Homo sapiens: one gene and its partners. The protein of the gene in region 3 interacts with the protein of the main gene of each other region in a pairwise test. Each region holds a gene or a part of one and is shown on either strand. Other genes may lie near its edges.

Evidence for each region.
Region 1: the proteins of ZNF330 (region 3) and PBX4 interact in binary tests that used the Homo sapiens proteins (3 or more experiments, as listed by UniProt).
Region 2: the proteins of ZNF330 (region 3) and CCN3 interact in binary tests that used the Homo sapiens proteins (3 or more experiments, as listed by UniProt).
Region 4: the proteins of ZNF330 (region 3) and NBPF19 interact in a two-hybrid assay, tested with the Homo sapiens proteins (one large-scale study listed by BioGRID).

The regions. Positions count from the first base shown.
Region 1 is NC_000019.10:19,608,635-19,612,211, forward strand, and holds part of PBX4 (pre-B-cell leukemia transcription factor 4), read right to left. Parts: intron 1-3,577.
Region 2 is NC_000008.11:119,422,148-119,424,969, reverse strand, and holds the end of CCN3 (CCN family member 3 precursor), read right to left. Parts: intron 2,135-2,822; coding exon 1,838-2,134; 3' UTR 536-1,837; downstream 1-535. UniProt on the Homo sapiens protein: Immediate-early protein playing a role in various cellular processes including proliferation, adhesion, migration, differentiation and survival. Acts by binding to integrins or membrane receptors such as NOTCH1.
Region 3 is NC_000004.12:141,230,826-141,233,053, forward strand, and holds part of ZNF330 (zinc finger protein 330), read left to right. Parts: intron 1-613; coding exon 614-660; intron 661-1,699; coding exon 1,700-1,817; intron 1,818-2,228.
Region 4 is NC_000001.11:149,548,036-149,551,612, reverse strand, and holds part of NBPF19 (NBPF family member NBPF19), read right to left. Parts: intron 3,464-3,577; coding exon 3,291-3,463; intron 2,577-3,290; coding exon 2,468-2,576; intron 1,839-2,467; coding exon 1,666-1,838; intron 947-1,665; coding exon 895-946; intron 287-894; coding exon 114-286; intron 1-113.

The DNA of each region.
Region 1 (3,577 bases), on a different chromosome or scaffold from region 3:
TGGGACCACAATGCATGCCTTCATGCTCCACGCCTGCCTTGCATGCATGCTTGCACCAAGCCTACAATGCCGCATCCACTTTCTTTGCCTAGGCAAAGCCTCAAGTCCAGATCTTGGCCATCTCCTCAAGGCTCCTTGTCCCCCGCCTGACTTCACCTAGACTCCAGAGTCATGCACTCTGATTGCCCATGCTCTACAAGCTCTAGTCTTGCTGAAGGGCTAACTCCTCATTGCCCTCTCTGGTCCCCGTGTCACCGCACTCTCCAATGTCTGCCTCTCCAAATAATGAATCTCCTTTCAGAACTCACTGCTGCATTCCCAAGCCCAGCACCAGACCTGGCACAAAATACATGTTTATTGAGTAGATGACATTTAATTTGCGAGAATGTACTTTTAAAAGTGTCCTGTAAAGCCCGAGCCTGACTGTCTGATCTCCCACGGCACCCAATCAGCTGGGCTCCTCTGAGCAGGAAGCGATGTCAGATTTAAGTGAGTTTTGTAGGATCCCTGGGAAAAGCAGAGACAGGTGGCAGGCAGTACAGCCTCAGAGTTCAATAGAGCATGCCCAAATCTCCATCCAACTACCCTCCAGTTATCTGGCCACTTGATTCCTTATCTAGAAACACAGTGAAGAGCCAGGCGCAGTAGCTCACACCTGTAATCCCAGCACTTTGGGAGGCTGAGGCGGGTGGATCACCTGAGGTCAGGAGTTGGAGACCAGCCTGACCAACATGGAGAAACCCCGTCTCTACTAAAAATACAAAATTAGCCAGGCGTGGTGGTGCATGCCTGTAATCCCAGCTACTTGGGAGGCTGAGGCAGGAGAATCGCTTGAACCCGGGAGGCGGAAGTTGTGGTGAGCCGAAATCGCGCCATTGCACTCCAGCCTGGGCAACAAGAGCAAAAATCCATATGAAAAAAAAAAAAAAAAAAGAGCCAGGCGCAGTGATTCACGCCTGTAATCCCAGCACTTTGGCAGGCCGAGGAGGGCAGATCACGAGCTCAGGAGATCGAGACCATCCTGGCTCACACGGTGAAACCCGGTCTCTACTAAAAATACAAAAAAATTAGCCGGGCGTGGTGGCGGGTGCCTGTATTCCCAGCTACTCGGGAGGCTGAGGCAGGAGAATGGCGTGAACCCGGGGGGCGGAGCTTGCAGTGAGCCGAGATTGCGCCACCACACTCCAGCCTGGGCGACACAGCGAGACTCCGTCTCAAAAAAACTAAAGAAAGAAAGAAAAACAAACAGTGAAAAACCACCCACTTCCTAGGGTTCTGGGGAGGGGTAAATGAGGGAAATCCTTATTGTCATCATCATCAACCACTGTGTTCTGATAGAGGCACTCGGTAGCTGTCATTTAAATGAGTGAGTGGTACTTGCTCCTTTGTGAAATTCTACACATGGCTTTACTTTTCATTAATAAAGCTATTTCAAAGGGGATTTTGCCAAAAGACTTTTAGATAGCTTCAGGGAATTGTTTTAAAACTAACACAATTTGCCAGGCACGGTGGCTCACGTCTGTAATCCCACCACTTTGGGAGGCTGAGACGGGCGGATCACCTGAGGTTGGGAGTTCGAGACCAGCCTGAACAACATGGAGAAACCTCGTCTCTACTGAAAATACAAAATTAGCTGGGTGTGGTGGCACGTGCCTGGAATCCCAGCTACTCGGAAGGCTGAGGCAGGAGAATTGTTTGAACCCGGGAGGTGGAGGTTGCGGTGAGCAGAGATTGTGCCATTGCACTCCAGCCTGGGTAACAAGAGTGAAACTCCATCTCGAAAACAATAAAAAATTTAAAAAACTTACAAAAAAATAAAAACAACACAATTCAAGCTGGGCAAAGTGGCTCACACCTGTAATCTCAGCACTTTGGGGAATCCGAGGCGGGATAATCATTTGAGGTCAGGAGTTCAAGACCAGCCTGCCCAACATGGTGAAACCTCGTTTCAACTAAAAATATGAAAATTAGCCGGGTGTGGTGGCTGGCGCATGCATGTAATCCTAGCTAATCAGGAGGCTGAGGCATGAGAATCACTTGAACTTGGGAGGTGGAGGTTGCAGTGAGCCGAGATTACGCCACTGCACTCCAGCCTGGGTGATAGAGCAAGACTCTGTGTCAAACAACAAAAACCAACACAATTCAACTCTTAGGAAAAGTACACCAAAGACAGCAAGACTCCTCTGGCACTAGACCAAGTCAAGCTAAGCCTGCAAGCAAGCTAAGAAGAAAGACTACAAGGCACGAAGTCAACTGGCATCTAATTAATCTCTTTAGGGATACTGAAAAAGAAAATTTTAAATATGAAATCCTACTTCCCAGGTTTGGACTGATAGATCCTCTCATGCTAATGCTATCTGGCTCTGGGAAATTCCACATCATAAATTCCCCCTAGAACCCTTGCATTCTTTGAATGGGTGTGCGGAAGGCTGAATGCTCACTGACATGCTTTATAACTATGTATGAATATAAGGTCAGAACATACATAAGTATACATACTTTATAAGTATATGTGTTCTGACCTTATATTCACTATTGCAAAAGTACCAAGCCTAGGGGAACACATTTCAGGTATCAGTTCACACCTTGCCTCTTCAGTAAGTTTAAAGGATAGTCAAAATCACTTCATTATCTCCCCTTCATAATAGGAATTTAATCCATATCTAGGCAAAGTCAATCTGCAGAAATATTGGAGGGACTAAGAAAGTTATGCAAATCTCTACTAGTTGAGGTCATAATAGTAAAAATCAAATTAAAAAGAGAAGGCCGGGCATGGTGGCTCACACCTGTAATCCCAGCACTTTGGGAGGCCGAGGCGGGCAGATCATGAGGTCAGGAGTTCAAGACCAGCCTGGCCAAGATGGTGAAACCCCGTCTCTACTAAAAATACAAAAAATAGCCTGGTGCAATGGCAGGTGCCTGTAATCCCAGCTACTTGGGAGGCTGAGGCAGGAGAATCACTTGAACCCAGGGGGCAGAGGTTGCAGTGAGCCGAGATCATGCCACTGCATTCCAGCCTGGGTGACAGGGTGAGATTCTGTCTCAAAAAAAAAAAAAAAAAAAGAAAGAAAAGTTCAGAGATATGTTTTCTTCCTAAGAAAACCTATGCAGGCATTGCTGGGTTGCCTAAAACCAACTTCCAAATACATTTTTGGTTTTAGGTATGCCATCTCACACACCACACTGCTTGCTCCTAAAACATTATAACAGTGAGCATTTAGAATGGGTGGGATGGCTCATGACTGTAGTCCCAGCATTTTGGGAGGCTGAGGCAGGAGGACAGCTTGAGCCCAGGAGTTCAAAACCAGCCTGGGCAACATAGTGAGACTCTGTATCTACAAAAAAATGTTAAGGCCAGGCACAGTGGCTCATGCCTGTAATCCCTGCACTTTGGGAGGCTGAGGCAGGCAGATCACCTGAAGCCAGGAGTTCTAGACCAGCTTGGCCAACATGGTGAAACTGTGTCTCTACTAAAAATACAAAAATTAAGCCGGGCATGGTGGTGCATACCTGTACACACCTGTAATCCCAACTACTCGGGAGGCTGAGGCAGAATTGCTTGAACCCATGAGACGAG
Region 2 (2,822 bases), on a different chromosome or scaffold from region 3:
GTTGGTAATAGTAAAACTCTTTTGAAAAGATTTTTCCTTACAAATTATAGAACTTGAGAGCCACACTGCATCAGCAAGAAGCTTCCAAACACAAAACTTCTATTAACTGTGACTCTGCCCAGTGTGCAGCCCAGTTTGTCACGCAATTCCCCATGATCAATGGAAATATGCTTTTCTGGGTACTTGGCAAGATAATACTGATCAAGAAAGTGCTGGCCATTTAAGCCGTGCAATTGGGAGGATGGGATGCCCTTTGATTAGATGAGGAAGCCACAGAGCTGAATTTTGTTTGGTCAGATAACAAGTTTAAATTTCAATATACAGAGGTGTCTAGCGGGCTGTCCAGAAAAAAAAAGATCAGGGCTTGAGATGAGGGTCTGGGTAAGTAGTGTGGAGGCTAGTTGAGGCTGTGATGGTGAGGAACATCTAACTCAGGAATACTGAGTTGTCTTTTGTTTCCCTTCTGATAAGAAGTTGTAAGCTCATCCAGAAATACTCATTTTGCTTTCAATAGATGCTATTGATTGATGTCTCATTTAATTCATAAATTTTAATTTTATTTTCAGTAAACAACAATGTTCAACTTTTATGCACCAAAGTAATACAGAGTCACGCAGCAATAAAATCGTGTTTATTTAGTGATATGACAAGTAGAGAAATCAAACATAATATTTTACAAAATGTACAATTTATATTTTTATAAATACTTTAAAAGAGAGAAGCGGAACACGTGTGGTGGCATTAAAAGAATGTCTAGATTTAATTTTGCAGCCTACCTTGTAGCCTGACAAACCAGATACATGTATGTATACACATATATCTTGATCATGAGTTTTCATAATTATGGCCCAAGGATAAGTTTTGGGCATGTCTACAATAATTCCAAACTCTCATAAAATGTGTGGTCTCTCACCACCAGTCATGTTGATTTTGCTCTATTTTTCTCAAAATTCCACAAAATGCACATTTGAAACAGCTATCAGAGGATGTAAGCAAGTGCTTTGGGCCTCAGTTTACTCATCAGTTAGATGAGAGAATCCCTGCTAATATGCTGTTTCTGCTTAATTAAAAAACTTGGGGGCCTCAGCAGCTTCCAATATATAAATGTCTGAGGGCTATGAGGGACCAGTCATCTTTGTATTGGGAGTTTTCTGTTTAGTTTCTTTCTATTGGAAAGGAGTCAATGTGTCTTAAATGGAGAAAGTTTATGACACCAGTCCACTTAGTAAACATTTCATTACTGTAGATACAACACGTTTCCTAGTGTAAAACTAAACAGAAAAGTAATAGTCATCTCTGGATGTCATGTTGAAGAGCTGCATGTTTCCTTGGATTTGGAGCTTGGAAGTTCAGAGCTGGTTTACCCAAAAAGGGAGCCAATAGAGAATCTTCCCAATGAACCTCAATATATGGTTGTAATACTTGTACAATGAAATGTTAAGTATGATTCTAGACTTCACTGACTCATTACAGTGATATTTTCTTGGAATTGCACTAGTGCACAACAAAATATGATGAGTGCAATGTGAAACAGTCTACAAAGTAAATTATATACTTGTTTTCTTAAATTTATAGAAATTTGCATTTGTAATAAAACCACAGGAAAGTAAGTCATTCCTAAGCCATATCCTGAGCTTACCTTGATTCCAAGTTTACAGTTAATTACATTTTTTGTTAAATAAAAGACAGATATAAAGGTCCTCATATGATCACATTAGGAAAATACATAGGATTCAAGGATGAAATCGTGATTCTTCATTACTTTTCTTATATTCCTTTGATGGTGGGTGGCGCAGCAGCTACAGGTGCTCTGTAGGTGTGCTTCTTGAGTGACAGGTTACATTTTCCCTCTGGTAGTCTTCAGCTCCAGCTCCTGGAGGAAGGCCTCATTGTTCTTAGGACAGTTGGTGTGACAGGTGCAGGTCCCAATGACCATCACTGGCTTCTTGACTATTTGCCCTGGGGAGCACTGAAACTCTGCCTGGATGGTTTTGGTATTGTGGGGAGTGCAGCAGCGGCCATCACTGCAGACCCCACAGAACCTGGGCTTGTAGGTGTGCAGGCTGGTGCAGTTCTTGAACTGCAGGTGGATGGCTTTGAGTGACTTCTTGGTGCGGAGACACTTTTTTCCTTTCTAAGAAAGAAAAAAGAAGTGATGTATTGAATGGCTACCATTCCCCTGAGGGACAATTTTAGAGTATGGAATTACCTGCTAGTTGCCCACCCAATATCTATTGGTCTTTCTTCTTTGCTATCAGAACATTAATTTTGCTTGAGCAATGTAGTCAGCTAAAAGTATTTGCTTCCACAGACTATGTGGGACTTGGGATAACCTTGTGGCAAAGTTCTGGCCAAGAGAATCTGGGAAATTCTTTGCCCTTTGAGTAGGTACAATTCTTTATTGTTCCTGTATTCATTTTCCTTTCTTCCTGGAATGTAAACACCTTGCCTAATTGTACATAATGGTCTTTTGACATTGAGGAGATGAGCATGCAGGTGAAAGCATAACAAAACCTATCTTTTAAGACACTGTAACATGCTTTGGTGTCATTTTTAGCCAAATGGATTTTTACACGTGATACAGTTTGGTTCTCTGTGTTCATACCCAAATCTCTTCTCATATTGTAATCACCACGTGTCAGAGGAGGGGCCTGGTGGGAGGTAATTAGATCATGGGGGCAGATTTTTCCCTTGCTGTTCTCGTGATAGTGAGTTCTCACAAGATCTGATGGTTTAAAAGTGTGGCACTTCCCCTCTCACTGTCTCTCTCTCTCTCTTTCTGCCTTTCTCTCTCTCTTTCTCTCTCTCTCTCTGTCTCTCTC
Region 3 (2,228 bases):
GTTGAGAGCCAGCATTGCTGACTGGGTAATAGTATCATCTTTACACATAGTTTTTTTCTTGGAAGGTTCATTGAAATGAGACACCATATAAAACAATAGCATGTGGTACTTGGCATTTAAAAAGCCCTTTTTAAATAGTAGTTACTATTATAGGAAAAAGACCGAAATTCCCCAGGTATTCTCTTCCTTTAATTTGGTTCTTGTTCTGGTATGAAATCCTAATTATTATACTTATTTATAAATTTAAAGTAGATAAGTCATCTCTGTGATATACATACAACATACATACTACACACACATAGACACACAATGTGTATGCATGTGTATATAATTCTTGCAATATTTATATATAAAATTCTCAGATTAAAAGAGCATCTCGAAGTATATAGCATTTTTGAGCCTTTCGTCGCCTTTTGCAGAATGTATAATAATAAATTTAATTATTTTATTTGCAGCATGGGAGCTTTGTGTGTTTTATAGCATTTGAACCCAAAAGACAGGCAGCTGTCTATAAGGCTATATTCCATTGCAAGCTTTTAGTGATTTGATAAAAGACAAAAGAAAATTCTAAGAACCAAATAACGGGATTTTAAAATTAATCTATTTCCCACAGGTGTTTCATGCAATCGGCTTGGTCAGCACTCATGTCTCCGTTGTAAGGTATACCAATGCGTTTTTTTCTTTTTAGATTTTGTTTTTAATCTCTATACCCCTCCACCAGTCCTTGGCTTATATGCAGCTATAATTAATTTATAAGGGACCTTAAAATTATGTAGTCTAATTCTTTTATTTTTGAGACTGTGGAATTGAAGTTGAGAAAGCTTACATGACTTTCCAATGGTCATCCAGTCACCTTTTAGTAGAGCTGTGGCTAGTGCACATTTCTCTGGAATCCTGGCTCTGTGTTTTTAGTGGAGAACATTCTGACCAAGATGATGAGAGTCTATTTTAATTAATGTCAAAATATACCTGCTTAGAAGAGTTTGGGTAAAGATTTCCAAATTTTTCTGTGTCCTTAGGCCTAGTCTCTAGCATTCGTTCGTCAAAGATTACTAAACAGATGCAGCCAATGCCCTTCCTCTCAGAAGCGTTTCTCTAGTTCTTATATTCCTAACCCTATGTCTTATTTATCTTCCAACTCTGTTCTAGTTTTACCAAATGGTGTTCAGGCATTATCTGTGTTTTCTTTGTCTGGAATACTTTTCCATCTTGGCTTACCCTATTGCCCTCCCATTCTTCATATGGCTATTAAGACTTCGTGTCTCTAAGATGCCTTTCCCAAATCCCATGTCTGCTTTAGTGCCCTTCCCTCTGCACTTCCCGTTCAGTGCTTAGTGTCTTGTAATTGCCTTTTCACTGTCTCCATCCCTAGTTAGACCATACACTGTGTGAGAGTAAATAGGCTGTTCACCATTATTTCATTTCATCAGGGACCTTATGAGTACTGAAATATTTGTGAACAGCTAAATGTACTTACATGTCATACTCAATATAGTCTGCCTTTTGTTAGATCATTGTTCAGAAGGGTCCTGACAAAAACCATTTCTGTTAAGAAAATGAAATGAGAAGTGTGACTGCTCCCAACAAAATTGTTAATCTCACTGCCTTAATAAAGCTATATCTTTAAAACACTGAATACTGTCTTTTTGTATATTTTTACATTTTTATTTATTTACTTTATTTTGCTTCTCCTATACAGGCTTGTTTCTGTGATGATCATACAAGGAGCAAAGTGTTTAAGCAAGAAAAAGGAAAACAGCCTCCTTGTCCTAAATGTGGGCATGAAACTCAGGAGACTAAGGACCTTAGCATGTCAAGTAAGGCCCTTAAGATACTAAGGAAGTGATTTTTGCTTTCATACTTAGACAAAGTTTATCTTTTTTTTTTTTGGTCTATTTTTCTTATTGCCTCTTCTTATTTGAAAAGATGAATGTGTTCTTTTAAGCAAGTGGAATTTTACAGCTTAGGAAAATATGTGGGTAAAGTTTTTCAGTTTTACTTAAATAGACCAATATTCATTTTGATATTTGGTATTTGCCTTAGTTAATGACAGCAAATACTGAAATTTAAGATAAAGAGTGATTTTTTTTTATTTTTGTTGAGTCTTCCTTGTTAAATAGTTGAGTAGCTATAATTCCTTAATATTAAAGTGGTGGTAATTTTAAGTACCTAGAAGTCAAATTCACTCTGAAGCTATCTTAGGTGTGTGATATTTGAGCACCTATGTT
Region 4 (3,577 bases), on a different chromosome or scaffold from region 3:
CCTGCCTGCGGCAATGACATCTCTCGGGTCAGTAAGGGCCACTTGGAACAGGAATATCACCCCTATCTGGAAGACCAGGTGGAGGCTTATCACCTTCATAGTAAGGTACTCACTGTCCACGTCAAGAGCCAAGCCAAGGTACTGTTCCTCCAATGAGTAAACAGCACTGCTGTAGGGCTGGCCTAAGTCAGGCAGTTCAAGATAACCTGAAGGAGTCGAATAACATCTATCCAGTGGGTCCTGCAAGACTTCAGGCTCTTTCTCAGCCAGCAGCTCCCTGCTGAGCCTGGAAAAGTAGGAAAAAGTAAAGAATAAGCCAGGGGGAATCAGAAACCACACAGCCCCAGCTAGATTTCATGGCTAACATAAGGAACTGTTTAAAAAGAAAAAGGACAGATCCATTAATGAGGTAATGAATTATTGCCTTTATGTTGGGATAGACCAGGGCCAGGTAGAAAAGAATGAAAGAGAAAGACAGGGAGAGGGAGAGAGAGAGAGAGAGAGAGAGAGAGGAGAAAGTGAGCTCAGCGAGTTGGCCGGGTGACACACTGATGAAGGGGTCAAAGGACACTCTGAGTTAGTGCCCTCGGGACACACAGCGAACAGTGATCATGAAAAGAGTGGGCTCAATAATTTTCCATAAACTTGCTCAAGATTCCATGCAGTTGCCATACAGCCTTTGAGGTATGGTCAACCTATAGTAAGTTAGTAAATGTTAAGGGGAGGAAGAAATGGAAACCTAAACATCTACTGCAATGAAAACCAACAGCCATGTCAGTAGGAGTAATTCAACCTTCGTTGAAAACATGAAATTGAACACACTCTTGTTTTCCCTGGACCTGGCATCTCCAGGTGTCAACACAGAATTAAGCATCCATAATTGCTCAAAGTTACCTGGGGCATGATGGGTCTTGGTCTTCTTCCACTTCTTGGTACTTTTCAATTTCTGCAATAAGTTCAGACATGGACAGACATATGAAGCTGGTTCTCCTACACACATAACAATCCACTGTCTAATCCTCACACAGGGACTTCAGGCTCCTCAGCATGAGAATAGGACACTGTGAGAGATATTCTTCAGGAGGCCTGAAGGCTGATCACCATAGAGATTCCTTGGTTTTTGTCCCAGAAACTGTGGGTAAAATTCCCTATTCTGGTAGATCGTTATCCCAATATCATTTGTCCCAAGTTTGTGCAAATGGTTATGCCATATTTTTCCAATCGATTTAAAGCAAATACCCCCAAATGGTTGCTAGGAGAAAAACTGCACTATTCAGCCCTGTCTCATCAAATACTCAGATTGTTCATGGTAGCGAGGATTTTAGACGCTGAAATTAGAGTGAAGGATGAAATCTACAAGATCTACAAAATTGAGACAAAATCAGAGTTGTGTGAATTTGTCACATCTGCCCAGGTCCAGTGTCATGAGAGTAGGATTAGGGCTCCACAGGCATGGCCTGAGACTAGGGAGAGAGCCTTGCTCACTGACCCATCCCTTGTCTGGGCTGCCAAGTGGAACTAGAGTTTCATTCAACCTACATGTGCCTATAGGTCCTCCCTGTGGCAATGACATCTCTCAGCTCAGTAAGGGCCACTTGCAGTAGGAATATGACCCTAACCAGAAGACTCAGTGGATCCTTATCACCTTCATAGAAAGGTACTCACCATCCATGTCAACAGCCAAGCCAACACACTGTTGCTCCAATATGTAAAAGGCACTTCTGTAGGGCTGGCATGAGTCAGTCAGTTCAAGACAACCTGAAGGAGTTGAATAACATCTATCCAGTGAGTCCTGCAAGACTTCAGGCCCTTTCTCATCCAGCAGCTCCCTGCTGAGCCTGGAAAAGTGGGAAAAAGTAAAGAATAAGCCAGGGGGAATCAGAAACCACACAGCCCCAGCTAGATTTCATGGCTAACGTTAAGGAAGAGTTTGAAAAGAAAAAGGACAGATCCATTAATGAGGTAACAAATTATTGCCTTTATGTTGGGATAGAACAGGGCCAGGTAGAAAACAATGAAAGAGAAAGACAGAGAGAGAGAGAGAGACAGAGACAGAGAGAGAGACAGAGACAGAGACAGAGAGAAAGTGACCTAGTGAATTGGCCAGGTGACATACTGGTAAGGGAGTAAAAGGACACTCTGAGTTAGTGCCCTCATGACACACAGCAAACTGTGATCATGAAAAGAGTGAGCTCAATAGTTTTCCATAAAATATGCTCAAAATTCGATGCAGTGGCCATGAGAGTACAGCTTTTGAAGTATGGTCAACCTATGGTACGCTAGTAAATGATAAGGGGAGGAAGAAATGGAAACCTAAACATCTACTGCAATGAAAACCAACAGCAATGACAGTAGGAGTAATTCAGCCTTCGTTGAAAACATGACATCAAACACACTCTGGTTTCCCTGAATCTGTTGCCTCCAGGTGTTAACACAGAATTAAGCATCCACAATTGCTGAAAGTCACCTGGGGCATGGTGGGTTTTGATCTTCTTCCCCTTCTTTTCTTCCCCTTCTTCTTTCCTTCTTTGATCTTCTTCCCCTTCTTTTCTTCCCCTTCCCCTTCTTTTCAATTTCTGCAATAAATTCAGACATGGACAGACACATTAAGCTGATTCCCCTACACACATAACAATCCACTGTCTAATCCTCACACAGGGACCTCAGGCTCCTCAGCATAAGAATAGGACACTGTGAGAGATATATTTCAGGAGGCCTGAAGGCTGGTCATGATAGAAATTCCTCGGTTTTTCTCCCAGAAACTGTGGGTAAAATGTCCCTATTCTAGTAGATCGTTATCCCAATATCATTTGTCCCAAGTTTGTGCAAACAGTTATGCCATATTTTTCCAATCAATTTAAAGCAAATACCCTCAAATGATTTCTGGGAGAAAAACTGCAATATTTAGCCCTGTCTCATCAAATACTCAGATTGTTCATGGTTGTGAGGACTTTAGACACTGAAATTAGAGTGAAAAAGGAAATCTACAAACCCTTGAGTCAAAATCATAGTTCTCTGAATTTGTCACATCTGCCCAGGTCCAATGTCATGAGAGTAGAATCAGAGTGCCACAGGTATGGCCTGAGACTAGGAAGAGAGCCATGCTCACTGACCCATCCCATGTCTGGGCTTCCAGGTAGAACTAGAGTTTCATTCAACCTACATGTGCCTATAGGTCCTCACTGCGGCAATGACATCTCTCAGCTCAGTAATGGCCACTTGGAGCAGGAATATGATCTTTATATGGAAGACTCAGTGGATGCTTATCACCTTCATAGAAAGGTACTCACCTCCCACGTCAAGAGAAAAGCCAACATGTTTTTCCTCCAATGCATAAAAGGAACTTCCATAGGGCTGGCAGGAGTCAGGCTGTTCAAGACAACTGGAAGGAGTTGAATAACATCTATCCAGTGAGTCCTGCAAGACTTCAGGCTCTACTACCTCCAGCAGCTCCCTGCTGAGCCTGGAAAAGGAGGAAAAAGTAAAGAATAAGCCAGGGGAAATCACACACAACAGAGCCCCAACTAGGTTTCATGGGTAGCATAAGGAAGTGGTTAAGAAAGTAAAAGGATAGATC